2 separate regions of the Homo sapiens genome follow, and region 1 is linked to region 2. Evidence: fine-mapped expression QTL. Tissue or cell type: naive CD8 T cells. Region 2 holds a variant in brackets; the other region holds the start of a gene. All regions are shown on one strand. Distances are from middle to middle.

The links. PIP is the estimated chance that this variant, and not a neighbour inherited with it, causes the effect.
Region 1: NPLOC4 starts here. The variant in region 2 is fine-mapped to the expression of NPLOC4 in naive CD8 T cells (Schmiedel 2018, PIP 0.95).

Annotation. Positions count from the first base shown.
Region 1 is chr17:81,632,073-81,640,157 of GRCh38, reverse strand. It overlaps NPLOC4 (NPL4 homolog, ubiquitin recognition factor), which reads left to right and starts at 3,046. Exons shown (of 17, transcript NM_017921.4): 1 at 3,046-3,242. The coding sequence starts at 3,228. It overlaps TSPAN10 (tetraspanin 10), which reads right to left and starts at 2,962. Exons shown (of 4, transcript NM_001290212.2): 1 at 2,752-2,962. RefSeq lists a silencer at 3,107-3,316.
Region 2 is chr17:81,656,346-81,664,440 of GRCh38, reverse strand. It overlaps PDE6G (phosphodiesterase 6G), which reads left to right and starts at 7,899. Exons shown (of 4, transcript NM_002602.4): 1 at 7,899-7,948. RefSeq lists an enhancer at 326-960. The variant T/C (reference allele first, on the strand shown) is at 3,547.

The sequences.
Region 1 (8,085 bases), 24 kb after region 2:
ACAAAAAGTTAGCCAGGTGTGATTGTGAGCACTTGTGGTCCCAGCTACTGAGGAGGCTGAGGTGGGAGTATCACCTGAGCCTGGGAAGTCGAGGCTACAGTGAGCCACGATTGTGCCACTGCACTCCAGCCTCGGCGATGGGAGTGAGACCCCAGTCTTTTCTTTTTTTTTTTTTTTTGAGACGGAGTCTTGCTCTGTCGCCCAGGCTGGAGCGCAGTGGCGTGATCTCGGCTCACTGCAAGCTCTGCCTCCCGGGTTCACGCCATTCTCCTGCCTCAGCCTCCCGAGTAGCTGGGACTACAGGCACCCGCCACCACGCCCGGCTAATTTTTTTTTTATTTTTAATAGAGACAGGGTTTCACCATATTAGCCAGGATGGTCTCGATCTCCTGACTTCGTGATCCACCTGCCTCGGCCTCTCAAAGTGCTGGGATGACAGGCGTGAGCCACCGCGCTGGGATGACAGGCATGAGCCACCGTGCTGGGATGACAGGCGTGAGCCACCGCGCTGGGATGACAGGCGTGAGCCACCGCGCCCGGCCAAGACCCCAGCCTTAAAAGAAAAAAAAAAGAAGAAAACAAAGGAGAAACCACGTCTACTGACACCTTGATCTGGGATTCTAGCTTCCAGGACTGTTAGGAAGTAATTCCAGGCCGGGCATGGTGGCTCATGCCTATAATCCCAGCACTTTGGGAGGCTGAGGCGGGTGGATCACGAGGTCAGGAGATCGAGACCAGCCTTACCAACATGGTGAAACCCTGTCTCTACTAAAGATATAAAAATTAGCCGGGCGTGGTAGCGCACGCTTGTAATCTCAGCTACTCAGGAGGCTGAGGCAGGAGAATCGCTTGAACCCACGAGGCGGAGGTTGCAGTGAGCTGGGATCGCGCCATTGCACTCCAACCTGGGCGACAGAGGGAGATCCGACTCAAAAAAAAAAAAAAAAAAAAAGAAAAGTAATTCCAAACCACCACCCAGTCTGTGAGAGATTTTGTTATGTTATATTTTCTTATAACTGAGATAATTATTACAGTTAAAGAGATCGGACTTAACTGAACCCATCTTGCTTCTAACCTCCAAGCTGTCCTTGTTCATTCCTGGGTGTAGGCTGAAATAACTTCGGGAGGCGCTTAGTTTATAGTTTAGCTTTGAAACAAAGATGGTAACAGCCCTTTGCAAAACAAACTCCCTTCCTACCTGGGGACAAGACTGCCTTTTCAGGACTAACAAATTAGCCATAAGATTAGAAATTATGGTTTAGGAGTCATGTAGCTGGAGGCTACAAGATTCTAAACCTCCCAAATTGCTTCTCAGGATAACATCACTATTAAAAAACAGATCAGCGCTTGAGATATTTTGCAGACTCTGCACTCCATGGATCAGCTGGCACCACCCAGATTGATAAACTGGCTCATATCTTGTGGCCCCCACCCAGGAACCGACTCAGCACAAGAGGACAGTTTTGACTCCCTATCATTTCACCTCTGACCCAACCAATCAACACTCCCTACTTTCTGACCCCATACCCACCAAATTATCCTTAAAACCGCGGATCCCCAGCCGGGCACGGTGGCTCACGTCTATAGTCCCAGCACTTTGGGGAGGCCCAGGTGGGCGGATCACCTGAGGTCAGGAGTTCAAGACCAGCCTGACCAACATGGAGAAACTCCGTCTCTACGAAAAATACAAAATTAGCCAGGCATGGTAGTGTGCGCCTGTAGTCCCAGCTACCCGGGAGGCTGAGGCAGGAGAATCACTGGAACCCAGGAGGTGAAGGTTGCAGTGAGCCGAGATCGCGCCACTGCACTCCAGTGTGGGTGACAGAGTGAGATTCGGACTCAAAAACAAAAAAAAACAAAAAACAAAAAACTCTGATCCCTGAATTCTCAAGGACACTAATTTTTTTTGAGTAGTAATAAAACCTCAGTAACCTGTACAAGCTGGCTCTGTGTGAATTAAACTCTTTATTGCAATTCCCCTGTCTTGATAAAGTCTAGGCAGTGGGCAGGGACAATATGTTGGGTAGTTACAGTGGCACCCTGAGCAAACTAATACAATTACTAACATAATTTAATCAATTAATGTAATTTAACATAGTTTAAAAAAACTGTCACAGTAATTGTGATGTTGTGAAATATGTATACATTTAGTCTTCCGGTTTCCTGGTATCCAACTCCAAAAATCCTTAGAATCTGTGAAGTGACGTCTTTTTTTTTTTTTTTTGAGATGAAGTCTCACTCTGTCGCCCAGACTGGAGTGCAGTGGCACCAACTCAGTTCATTCTAACCTCCGCCTCTTCGCTTCAAGAGATTCTCCGGCCTCAGACTCCCGAGTAGCTGGGATTACAGGTGCCCGCCACCACGCCCAGTTAATTTTTGTATTTTTAGTAGAGACGGGGTTTCACCACGTTGGTCAGGCTGGTCTTGAACTCCTGACCTCAGGTGATCCACCTGCCTCGGCCTCCCAAAGTGCTGGGATTACAGGCGTGAGCCACCGCGTATGGCCTAATTTTGTATTTTGAGTAGAGACGGGGTTTCACCATTTTGGCCAGGCTGGTCTCGAACTTTTGACCTCAGGTGATCCGTCCACCTTGGCTTCCCAAAATGCTGGGATTACAGGTATGAGCCACCGCGCCCGGCCTGAAATGCAGTTTAAACTCGTTTGTTTTTCTTATGTTAAATTTAAAAAATACTTAAAAAAAAAAACATGAAGGTGTGATCCTGCCTTCCTGAAATTGTTTCTCTACTTACCTGTGCATGGAGAGAAGTTTGGAATGCTGTTTCCCCAATTATAATACGCTATAATACGCAGCAGTAGTTATTTTTGGGTGAGACTTCGGATGCTCGTCTTTGCTTCCTTTTTGGACTTTCCTGTGCCGCTTGGGTTTCCGAGGACGAGCAGAAGTAATCTCAGACGCAACTTTCCAAAATCCCCTCCTCCAGTTGCAGGGATGGCGGGGGCGGGTCAGCGGCGCCGCCCTGCGCATGCGTCGAGCCGTTGGTGGGGCCGGAACCTGGTTTCCCGGCCTCGCGCCCGAGGGGAGCGTATTGAGCGAGGCACCGGGACGTCGGCGGCTGGCGGAGCCGGGCGGGCGAAGCTGGAGCGGCGGTGGCGGCGGCGTAGGGAGGCCGGGGCCGGGGCTGAGGCCGCGGCCGGGTCTGCGAGGCCCTTGGGGCGGCAGGCGGCGGCGGCCCGGGGCTCGAGCCCGGAGGCAGGAGCAGCCGCCATGGCCGAGAGCATCGTGAGTGCGGCGGCCGGGCGGGAGCGGGGACGCCGGGATGAGGCAGCAGATTTGCCGGCCTCGGCCTGTGGGGGAGGCGGGCCTGCCGGCGCCGCGACTCGGCCCCTTTCTCTTCTCTCGCCAGGGCTTTCTCTGTAGTGGCTGGGCCCCTCTCGGGGACTTTCACCCCCCTCGGCTGCTTCCCGTCCGTGTCCCTCCCCAGGGGACTTACGACCCCGGTTCCCCGCCCTGGGCAGGGAAAGGCCGAGCCTTTCTAAGCAGGGAGAATGGACTGTGGCGAAGAGAAACCGCCCTCCTTCCCCACCCGTTTCCCGGCTCCAGGAGACTTCCTGGTCTAATTCCAGGGACTCCCAGCCAGTCCTGCCCCTCTCAGAGCCAGGGACACCTCTTATCCTAATCTCCCTCTGATTCTCTCCTCCTGCTCTCCCGCTTCCCAGCAAGTGCCTTGTCATGAGTCACTAAGGAGAGCAGCTCTGCAGACGGGGACGTTACAGAGCTCCCTCCCCACCAGAAGACCTGGGAAAATGAAAACACAGTAACTTGCCGGCTTTGCTCCTTACTTGGAAGGACAACTTGACAATTCCTCTTTAAAAGGAATGTTGTAAATGATGTTGATTTCACTTTTTACCTGAAATTGAAATTGTCGGCCCGGCGCAGTGGCTCACGCCTGTGATGTCAGCACTTTGGGAGGCCGAGGCGGGTGGATCACCTGGGGTCAGGAGTTCGAGACCATCCTGGCCAACATGGCAAAATCTTGTCTCTACTAAAAATACAAAAAATTAGCCGGGCGTCATGGCGCACTGTAATCCCAGATACTTGGGAGGCTGAGGCAGGAGAATTGCTTGAACGCGGGAGGTGGAGGTTACAGTGAGCTGAGATCCCTCCATGGCACTCCAGCCTGGGCTATAGAGCGAGACTGCGTCTCAAAAAAAAAAAAAAAATTGTCACACACTCCTCCTTAACGTAAAAAATATCAGTGACAAATCAGAAAACCAGTCCCTCGTTAAGTTGTGAGAAGTTTCTTCCCAAAAGTAAATGTGATGGGAAAAAAACTAACTGACCATTGGACAGGAGCATTTTGGTTAATATTAAGGAAGATTTGGGATTTCTGGGGGAAGCTTAGCAGTATTGGGTGAAGAGTAATGTTCATACTGTAGCATTGTGACAGTCTCTGCAGTTTTGCCAGGTGTTGTCTAGAATAGGTCTCCAGGCCCGGCGCGGTGACTCACACCTGTAATCCCAGCACTTTGGGAAGCCCAGGTGGGTGGATCACCTGAGGTCAGGAGTTCAAGACCAGCCTGGACAACATAGTGAGCCTAGGTGGCGTCACTGGACTCCACCCTGGGCGACAGAATGAGACTGTCTCACACACACAAACAAATGGGTCTCCAGGAGAACCTAGCACTTATTTGCAAGGCTGTTCTCTGGTGGTTCCATCATCTCTCCAGTCAGGGGCCCTCTTGGTGCCTCCATGTTTCCCAACCTGGAGATGAGTGGAATGAATATATGGCCCAGGAGAAACTTAGGAAACGTCGACTCCTTTTTTTTTTTTTTTTTTAACCTTATTTTATTTTTTTGAGATGGAGTCTCACTCTGTCGCCCAGGCTGGAGTTCAGTGGTGCGATCTCTGCTTACTGCAACCTCCGCCTCTCGGGTTCAAGAAATTCTCCTGCCTCAGCCGAGTAGCTGGGGTTGCAGGTGCTCGCCAACACGCATGGCTGATGTCTTTTTTATTTTTAGTGGTGATGGGGTTTCACCGTGTTGGCCAGGTTGATCTCGAACTTCTGACCTCGTGATCCGCCCGCCTTGGCATACCAAAATGCTGGGATTACAGGCATAAGCCACCGCGCCTGGCCTTTAAATCTTTTTAATTAAAAACATTTTTTTATAGAGATGAGGTCTCTACTATGTTGTACAGGCTGGTCTCTGAGCTCGAGGGATCCTCCTACCTTGGGGTCCCAAAATTGCTAGGATTACAGTCCTGAGCTACCATGCCCGGCCAAGAAACCTTTGACTCCTTTGAAAAATAAAATGTGGCCATGCAGTGGCTCACGCCTGTAATCCCAGCACTTTGGGAGGCCGAGGTGGGCGGATCACGAGGTCAGGAGTTCAAGACTGGCCTGACCAACATGGTGAAACCCTGTCTCTACTAAAAATAAAAAATTAGCCGGGTGTGGTGGCATGCACCTGTTATCCCAGCTACTCTGGAGGTTGAGGGAGGGGAATCGCTCAAACCCGGGAGGTGGAGGTTGCAGTGAGCCCAGATTGCGCCACTGCACTCCAGCCTGGGCGACAGAGCAAGACTGTCTCAAAAAAAAAAAAAAAAGTGTTAATCATTGGTGACTTTGCCTAGAAATAGGTTAGGAATTAGCACTGAAACCTTCTTTCAAACTACCTTTGTACTTTTAACTGAGTTAAAATAACCATTGACAAGTGAAAAGTGTTTCAGACAAGGCCATTTTTTTTTTCCCACTAGTGTATAAGGCTAGGCTCTCATTGACAGCATTGGATCTCGTTGAATGTCTCAGATTGTGAGGAATTAAAACACTCTTCTTTTGAAATTGATTTAAAAAGTTATTTTGAATTTAAGAAAGAGATCTTTTGAAAAGTTTCTGGGCTGGGCATGGTGGCTCACACCTGTAATCCCAGCACTTTGAGAGGCCGAGGCAGGTGAATAATGAGGTCAGGAGTTGAGACCAGCCTGGCCGACATGGTGAAACCACGTCTTTACTAAAAATACAAAAATTAGGGCGTGGTGGCTCACGTTTGTAATCCTAGCACTTTGGAAGGCCGAGGCAGGTGGATTGCCTGAGCTCAGGAGTTTGAGACCAGCCTGGGCAACACGGTGAAACCCCACGTCTACTAAAAAAAAAAAATACAAAAAATTAACCGGGCGTGGTGGCGTGCACCTGTAGTCCCAGCCACTCAGGAGGCTGAGGCAGAAAAGTTAGAACCCGGGAGGCGGAGATTGCAGTGAGCCGAGATCGCACCACTGCACTCCAGCCTGGGTGACAGAGTGAGACTCTTAAAAAAAAAAAAAAAATTAGCTGGGCGCGGTGGCGGGCGCCTATAATCCCAGCTACTTGGGAGGCTTGAGGCAAGAGAATTGCTTGAACTCGGCAGGCAAAGGTTGCAGTGAACCGAGGTCGCGCCATCGCACTCCCACTCTGGGTGACAGAGCAAGACTCTGTCTTGGGGGGAGAAAAGAGTTTCTGTGGATTTAACTGTATCTCACCAGTTCTTCAACTTCCCCAAGAAGCGTTCTAGTCTTATTTTCTTATAAATAGGGAAACTTAAGTTACCAAGAGGCTGTGTGTTCATGTTGTCAGGTCTGTCTCTTCCTGTGTATTTCATTTTGTAGTCTGTGTCAGAGGCTAGGCCAGAACTTTCCATCGTACAAATTATGTTTGTCTCTTGTTAAATACTGGAGTTGGCCTTGGAAACCTGGACTCCCATCTTCTGTGGTAGAGGATCAAGTAGGATGACTTCTTCACCTTAGAATTCTGCAGCCTGAACCATTTAGCTCTGTAAAGAATGGCGGTAACATGCTCTTGTTCCAGAGTCATCGTTTGAAGGAACATTCACATGTTCCCCTTCATTAGAACAGAGCTTTCCTTTTTAAGATAGCTAAGTGTTGGCAGACAGATTTTAGAAACAAATAAGTGGAAGTATTTACCTAATGCTATATATTGTGAAAACGTTTTTCTGGGGTATTGAATCTAGAATGAAGTATACTAGACGTTAGAAGTATAAAGAATTGTATTTCTTTTCTTTTTTTTTTTTTTTTTGAGACGGAGTCTTGCTCTGTCACCCAGGCTGGAGTGCAGTGGCGCGATCTGCTCACCACAAGCTCTGCCTCCTGGGTTCACGCCATTCTCCTACCTCAGCCTCCCAAGTAGCTGGGACTACAGGCGCCCTCCACCACGCCTGGCTAATGTTTTGTATTTTTAGTAGAGATGGGGTTTCACCGTGTTAGCCAGGATGGTCTCAATCTCCTGACTTAAAAGTTGAGAACATATTGGGTGGAGCCTTTTCTGCCAAGTGAAAGTTATGGGAAAATGCAGGACAGGGTTATCCTATTTTAGGAAAATCTAGATTAGGCTTAGTTACTTTACTAAAAGCGGACAAATCCCAGTAGACTGAGCCTTTATGGTGTTTTGTCCTGTATCAGTGGAAATCTTTTTTAGACAATGGCTTGTGACAGTTTTCATCTGCATAATGGTTGAAGAGGATGTTTAATGTAACACTCGTGGTAACCTCACAGAAAATAGTTATAGAATTTATGAAAAAGGAAATAAGGGAGGCCGGGTGTGGTGGTGCACACCTGTAATCCCAGCACTTTGGGAGGCCCAGGTGGGTGGATAACTTGAGGTCAGGAGTTCGAGACCAGCCTGGCCAACGTGGTGAAATCCCATCTCTACTAAAAATACTAAAAATTAGCCAGGCGTGGTGGCAGGCACTTGTAATCCCAGATACTCAGGAGGCTGAGACAGGAGAATCACTTGAACCGGGGAGGCAGAGGTTGCAGTGAGCCGAGATCACGCCATTGCACTCCAGCCTGGGCAACAAGAGCTGAAAAAAAAAAAAGAAATAAAAAAGGAAATAAGGGAATTGAAATGTTTCACTATAAAAAATCAGCTAGGCCAGGGTTGGTGGCTCATGCCTATAATCCCAGCACTTTAGGAGGCTGAGGCAGGTGGATCACCTGAGGTAGGCGTTTAAGACCAGATTGACTAACATGTTGAAACCCCGTCTCTACTAAAAATACAAAAATTAGCTGGGCTTGGTGGTGCACGCCTGTAATCCCAGCTGCTCAGGAGGCTGAGACAGGAGAATCGCCTGA
Region 2 (8,095 bases):
CTCTGGTTGCTCTCAGCGTGCAGCAGAGGGAAGGCCATCTGATCTCATTGAGTCACTGTGGCAAAGCCTTTGGCAGGCACAGAAGCCCACAGGCAGCCTGGAAGTGCCCATCTGTCCAGCTGCCATCAATCCCTGGCAGGGGTCCTCGGGTGCCCTTCCACCAGCCTGGCAGGGGCTGCAGATCAGCCCTCAGTGGCCCAAGCACTACCTGGAACCAGTCCTTCCAGCTCCTTCAGCCGCAGCTCCCAGGGGAGTTGGTAAGAGCAGCAGGACGTGGCCAGGCGTGGTGACTCACGCCTGTAATCCCAGCATTTTGGGAGGCCTAGGTGGGTGGATCACCTGAGATCAGGAGTTTGAGACCAGCCTGGCCAAACGTGGGGAAACCCCTTCTCTACTGAAATTACAGTAATTAGCTGGGCACGGTGGCGGGTGCCTATAATCCCACCTACTCAGGAGGCTGAGGCAGGAGAATTGCTGGAACCTAGAGGTGGAGGTTGCGGTGAGCTGAGATGGCACCACTGCACTCCAGTCTGGGCGACAGCAAGCAAGACTCCATCTCAAAAAAAAAAATACTAAAGTTAGTGGGGCATGGTGGCACACAACTGTAGTCCCAGATACTCGAGAGGCTGAGGCAGAATTGCTTGAACCTGGGAGGCAGAGGTTGCAGTCAGCTGAGATTATGCCACTACACTGCAGCCTGGGTGACAGAGCAAGACTCTATCTCAAAAAGAAAAAAAAAAAAAACCGGCCAGGCGCGGTGGCTCACGCCTGTAAAGCCAGCACTTTGGGAGGCCAAGGCGGGCTGATCATGAGGTCAGGAGATTGAGACCATCCTGGCTAACATGGTGAAACCCTGTCTCTACTAAAAATACAAAAATTAGCTGGGCGTGGTGGCAGGCGCCTGTAGTCCCAGCTACTCAGGAGGCTGAGGCAGAAGAATGGCGTGAAGCCGAGAGGCGGAGCTTGCAGTGAGCTGAGATCACGCCACTGCACTCCAGCCTGGGTGACAGAGCGAGACTCCGCCTAAAAAAAAAAAAAAATTAGCAAGGCTGACATGCCTAAGTTTAGCAATCCTGAAAATGTGGATTATTCCATAAGAAATCTAAGAAAACAAGGAAAGAAAACAGTTCTCAGTGGCAGTCAGGGAAACCTGCCATAACCAAGTGGCCTGTTCTCTAATGTCACCTACATGGGTTTTTAATCTTTGCAGATTCATGTGTGTAAGTACAGGATGTGGGATTTGCAACCTTATGTGGTCCTCCCTGCTCACCTAAGATGTAATCTACAGCTACCCTATTATCTAAGACAACCTGAGCCGGTGAATGAATTCCTCTCTGCTGGGCGGCCTTGCCGACGCACTTTTCTCAGCAAGAATTCCCGAAGTAAGATTCCTCATCCTGTGCTCGTGGGATGCCACTCCCCACCAAGTCGCCCAAAGACCCAGGTCCATATTTTTGGTACCCAGGATCCCCAAAGCAAGTCCGCGGACTGCTTAGTTCTGTAGCCTCCGCCTCCTGGGTTCAAAGCCATTCTCCTGCCTCAGCCACACAAGTAGCTGGGACTACAGGCGCGTGCCACCACATCCAGCTAATTTTTTGTATTTTTACTAGAGACGGGGTTTCGCCATATCACCCAGCTGGTCTTGAACTCCTAGGCTCAGGTAATCCACTTGCCTCGGCCCTGTAAAGTGCTGGGATTGCAGGCATGAGCCACTGTGCCCGGCCAACTGCTTAGTTTTCATGAGTTGTTTAGTTAGTGAGAGCTATAAACCAAAAGTATCTGAGACAGGCCTCAATGAATCTACTTACTGATTTATTTGAGATGAAGTTTTGCTCTGTGGCCCAGGCTGCAGTGCAGTGGCGCGATCTCGGCTCACCACAACCTCCACCTCGCGGGTTCAAGCGATTCTCCTGCCTCAGTCTCCCAAGTAGCTGGGACTACAGGCGTGCCCCACAGCGTCTGGCTAATTTTTATATTTTTAGTAGAGACGTGGTTTTGCCATGTTGGTCAGGCAGGTCTCCAACTCCTGACCTCAAGCCATCTGCCCACCTCAGCCTCCTGAAGTGCTAGGATTACAGGTGTGAGCCACCATGCCTGGCCAATTTATTTATTTTTTATTTCAATACTTTTTGGGGAACAGGCAGGTTTTGGTTACAGGGATGAGTTCTTTAGTGGTCAATAAGTTTGGAAAGGTTATTTTGCGAAGGTTGACGACATGCCTGTGACAGCCTCAGGAGGTCCTGGCAACATGTGCCCAACGTGGACACATGTTGCTTTTATACTTTTTAGGGAGACATAATACATCAATCAATACCTATCATATGTACATTGGTTTGGTCAGGAAAGGAGGGACAACTTGAAGGGAGGGGGCTTCCAGGTCATAGGTAGATTTAAAGATTTTCTTTTTTTTGAGACAGAGTCTCGCCCTGTCACCCAGGTTGGAGTGTAGTGGTGCGATCTTGGCTCACTGCAACCTCTGCCTCCCGGGATTAAGTGATTCTCCTGCCTCAACCTCCCGAGTACCTAGGATTACAGGCACCTGCCACCATGCCCGGCTGATTTTTTTTTTTTTTTTTTTTTTTGAGACAGAGTCTCACTCTGTCGCAGGCTGGAGTGCAGTGGCGCAATCTCGGGCTCACTGCAACCTCTGCCGCCCAGGTTCAAGCGATTCTCCTGCCTCAGTCTCCCAAGTAGCTGGGATTACAGGCACCCACCACCACGCATGGCTAATTTTTGTAGTTTCAGTAGCAACGGGCTTTCACCATCTTGGCCAGGGTTGGTCTTGAACTCCTGACCTTGTGATTCACCCGCCTCAGCCTCCCAAAGTGCTGGGATTACAGGCGTGAGCCACTGCACCCGGCATGCCTGGCTAATTTTCGTATTTTTAGTAGAGACGGGGTTTCACCATATTGGCCAGGCTGGTCCCGAACTCCTGACCTCAGGTGATCCACCCACCTCTGCCTTCCAAAGTGCTGGGATTACAGGCATGAGCCACTGTGCCTGGCTGGCTTTCAGGCTTTTTGTCTTTGGCTTGAAGGTGGGGTTTCACTGGGGACCTGCCCGTATCTGCCTAGGCATTCGACTGCCTCCTGCCACCATCAGGCATAGCTCACTGCAGCCTCAACCGCCAAGGCTGAAGTGATCTTCCCATCTTAGCCTACCAAGTAGCTGGGACTACAGGCAAGTGCCACCATGCCCGGTTCATTGTTTTTTGTCTGTGTCTGTATGTGGAGATGGGGGTCTTCCTACGTTGCCCAAGTTGGTCGTAAACTCCTGGGCTCCTGCCTTGGCCTCCAAAGTGCTGTGATTACAGGTATGAGCTACCATGCCCAGCCTACAAAACAATTTTTAAAAACTTAGCTGGGCATGGTGGTGTGTGCCTGTAATCCCACCTACTTGGGAGGCTGAGGCAGGAGGATCACTTGGGCCAGGAAGTCAAGACGGAAGTAAGTCATGATTGCCTCACTACACTCCAGCCTGGGTGGCAGAGACCCCTGTCTCTAAAAACAAAACAATCACACACACAATCATATTCATAGTTCAACA[T/C]GAGCACTTGAAGTAATTAAAGACCCCAGGGCAGCACACAGAATCTGCTTAGCCTGTAGATAGAGAACACAAGAAAAGCCATGGCAAAAAACTACGTATGTCCGGCCGGGCACGGCAGCTCACGCCTGTAATCCTAGCACTGTGGGAGTCTGAGACGGGCGGATCACTTGAGTCTAGGAGTTTGAGACCACCCTGGGCAACATAGTGAGACTCTATCTTTACAAAAAATACAAAAATTAGCCGGGTGTGGTGGTGAGCACCTGTAGTCCCAGCTACTCAGGAGGCTGATGTGGCAGGATTGCTTGAGCCTGAGGAGGTCAAGGCTGCAGTGAGTTTGTTTGTTCTCAAAAAACAAACAAAAAACAGTTTATAGTCTTTATACACAGCCGCTTTGGGAAAGCTCCATTCCTTAACTTGTGCTTGTCTTGGTCTTCCTGTGTGTAGTTACTGCTGTAGAAAAGTATTAATAGCTTCATTTTTTTGTTTTGAGACAGAGTCTCTGTCGCCCAGGCTAGAGAGCAATGGCACAATCTCTGCTCACTGCAACCTCCACTTACCGAGTTCAAAAAATTCTCCTGCCTCAGCCTCCCCAGTAGCTAGGATTAAGGCACCTGCCACCACGCCTGGCTAATTTTTTGTATTTTTAGTAGAGACAGGGTTTCGCCATGTTGGCCAAGCTGGTGTCGAACACCTGGCCTCAGCTGATCCACCTGCCTCAGCCTCCCAAAGTGCTGGATTACAGGTGTGAGCCACCGTGCCCAGCCTAATAGTCTCATTTTGTTTCTTTTCTTTTTTTCTTTTCTTTTTTTGAGATGAAGTTTCGCTCTTGTTGCCCAGGCTGAAGTGCAATGGCACGATCTTGGCTCACTGCAACCTCTGCCTGCTGGGTTCAATCGATTCTCCTGCCTCAGCCTCCTGAGTAGCTGGGATTACAAGCATGCACCACCACGCCCGGCTAATTTTGTATTTTTGTAGAGACAGGTCTTCTCCATGTTGGTCAGGCTGGTCTCCAACTCCTGACCTCAGGTGATCCGCCCACCTTGGCCTCCCAAAGTTCTGGGATTACAGACGTGAGCCAATGTGCCCGGCCTAATAGTTTCATTTCATGTAAACATAAGTAACTTCCAAGCAATTACGTAGAGGGCTAAAATTGTACCTGGTATTTAAGTCATCAGAACCGGTTCTGCAAGTGACTGTGTTTTGCATTATTGTGAAGATATGAAAATGTGGTGAACGACAATTTAAAGAGTGTTCCACATCACCGTTTAATTTCTTTTTTATTATTTATTTATTTTTGAGATGAAGTCTTCCTCTGTCGCCCAGGTTGGAGTGCAGTGGCGCCATCTCAGCTCACTGCAACCTCCGCCTCCCGGGTTTAAATGATTCTCCTGCCGCAGCCTCCCTGGCAGCTGGGACTACAGGCGCCCGCCACCACGCCCCACTAATTTTTTTAGTTTTAGTAGAGATGGGGTTTCACTATATTGCCCAGGCCGGTCTCAAACTCCTGACCTCAGGTGGTCCAGCCACCTCGTCCTCCAAAAGTACAGGGATGAGCCACCATGCCTGGCCTATTTTACTATTTCAGAGTTGAGGTCTCGCTCTGTCACCCAGGTTAAAGTGCAATGGTACAATAATAGCTCTCTGCAGCCTTGAATTCCTGCAGCCACCGATATTTCACTTCTGCATTCCAGCCTAGGTGACAGAGCCAGATCCTGTCTCTCAAAAAAAAAAAAAAAAAAAAAAGATATGGATTGCAATCTTGTTTCCTCTGGGGCTGAGTGAGGGATTGAGCCATGTGGGACAAGAGGTTTTTGACTTGTTCCATTTATTGCAGCATAACTTGAATCCAGCCGTCCTTTCTGGACTAGTGATTTTTGCCAGTCTCATGGCTAGAGTTTTACAATCAAGGCTATAGGGTCTTTGTTTAGGTCTATTTGGAGCTTTATGTATTTTCATGTGATTGTCTTTGTATATTGTCTGTGATACATGATACCAAAAAAGGAGTACTCATACATTTTATTTTATTTTACTATTTATATTTTTATTATTATTTTTTGAGACAGAGTCTCACTGTTGCCCAGGCTGGAGTGCAGTGGTGCAATCTCAGCTCACTGCAACCTCCACCTCCTGGGTTCAAGCGATTCTCCTGCCTCAGCCTCCTGAGTAACTGGGACTACAGGTGCATGCCACCACGCCCAGCTAATTTTTGTATTTTTAGTAGAGACAGGGTTTCACCATGTTGGCCAGGCTGGTCTTGAACTCCTGATCTCAAGTAATCCACCTGCCTCGGCCTCCCAAAGTGCTGAGATTACAGGCGTGAGCCACCATGCCCGTCCAGGTTTTATTTTTAATTTTTCAAAATTTTCATATTTCTTCAGAGATAGGGTCTCTCTCTGTCCCCCAGGCTGGAGTGGTTTGACCATGGCTCACTGCAGCCTCGAGCTCCTAGGCTCAAGGGATCCTCCTGCCTCAGCCTCCCAAGTAGCTGGGTCTATAGAAGTGAGCCACTGTGGCCAGGCACGGTGGCTCACACCTGTAATCCCAGCACTTCGGGAGGCCAAAGTGGGCAGATCACGAGGTCAGGAGATTGAGACCATCCTGGCTAACATGGTGAAACCCTGTCTCTACTAAAAATATTAAAAATTAGCTGGGCGTGGTGGTGGGAGCCTGTAATCCCAGCTACTCAGGAGGCCGAGGCAGGAGAATCACTTGAACTCAGGAGGCAGAGGTTGCAGTGAGCCGAGATCAGGCCACTGCACTCCAGCCTGGGCAACAGAGCGAGACTCAGTCTCAAAAATGAAATAATAAAATAAGAAGTGAGCCACTGCACCTAGCTAATTTTTTCTATTTTTTGTAGAGATGGGGGGGTCTCACTATGTTGTCCAGGCTGGTCTTGAACTCCTGGCCTCAAGTGATCCTCCTGCCTCAGCCTCCCAAAGCGCTGTTTGAGAGCCACTGCTCCCGGCCGAGTTATGGGTTTTTATTTATTTATTTATTTATTTATTTATTCATTTGAAACAGAATCTCGCTCTGTCGCCCAGGCTCTAGTGCGGTGGCGCGATCTCGGCTCACTGCAAGCTCCGCCTCCCGGGTTCACGCCATTCTCCTGCCTCAGCCTCCCAAGTAGCTGGGATTACAGGTACATGCCACCACGCCCGGCTAATTTTTTTGTATTTTTAGTAGAGTCGGGGTTTCACCATGTTAGCAAGGATGGTCTCGATCTCCTGACCTTGTGATCCACCTGCCTCAGCCTCCCAAAGTGCTGGGATTACAGGCATGAGCCACCACACCAGGCCTGAGTTATGGGTTTTTAAAGGTGCAGAGGCAGAGGTCACAGGCAAGTCATAAATCAGTACATGGAGGTTGTACACTGGTTTTGCCATAAATAGCAAGGAGATCTTGAAGCCAGGGACCACGGGTCATAGGTGGATTCAAAGGTTTTCTGATTTGGTGCAGAAGCGAATCTTTGTCTAAAACTTTGGGATCCGCAGGAAAGAATGTTAGCTCTGGGTTGTGGGCATGGCCTCCTCCAGGCCCCTCAGGATGGGCATAGCCTCCTCCAGGCCCCTCAGGAAGAAATTTAGGTAAGAGAAGGGTGGTCAGAGGCCAGTCCTCAGCTCCCGCTCATGTGAGGTCTGTGTGCCAGCACGCCCCTTTGGTGGGAGTCCCTGTTTCTGGAAAACAACTGAGGAGCACCTGCTAAGATGGCATGGTTTGCTTCTGTGGAGACTCTCGGGACTCTGGCTTCCATCTGTTGTTCTAAGCTCCTGTGACCTTCTTGTGACCTTCCTGTGGATCGGCTGCTCATTTCCTTCTCTGGGCTGGCTGGGGGCCTGGCTTGCCCTTGAAGGAACTCAACATTGTCCTTGCTTCTGTGCTTGGGAAGACCCACAGGCCCCTAAGGGCGGGGGGGGGTCCTTGTTTGGTTTCAGGAGCAGCAGGTGCAAAGGCCCTGGGGTGGGAGGGGTGAGATGTGAGGCCACAGCAGCGGGTGAGGGCCAGGCTGCAGAGGGTTTTGGGGACCATGAAGGTGGGCCCTTCAGAGATCAGGCAGGGTCAGGAAAGGCAGTAGGGAGGCCCAAGACAGCAGACACTGTGGTTGCTTCCATCTGGAAGATGGGCAGCTGCAGGAGCCTGGCTGTTCAGGGTCACACTTCTCTCCCTGTCCCGGCCCCATCTGCTGGGTGTCCTTCCTTGGAGCCCTTGACAGCACCTGAGCCCCTCCTCTCCATCCCCTGAACCTTGGTGGTTGTGCCCCCCCTCGGGGCCCAACAATCTCATTAGGGTGGCACTGAGACGCCTAATCAGCTCATGAAGCAGCGAGATAAAGGCCGGGGCTGGCACCCTGCGGAGGGAGGCCCAGCACTCACAGCACAGCCCCCTGAGACCCGCCCTGCACTTGGTGAGTAGTGGCCAACCCCGCTGTCTTTCCTGGCAGCCACTTCCCCCAGTGAGTCAGTGGGGGTCTGCTCATCACCCAAGGGGCAGAGGGAGCTGACAGGCTTTTACCACCGTGGCTGAGGTCTGGGTCTGCAGATGCCTACCCGCC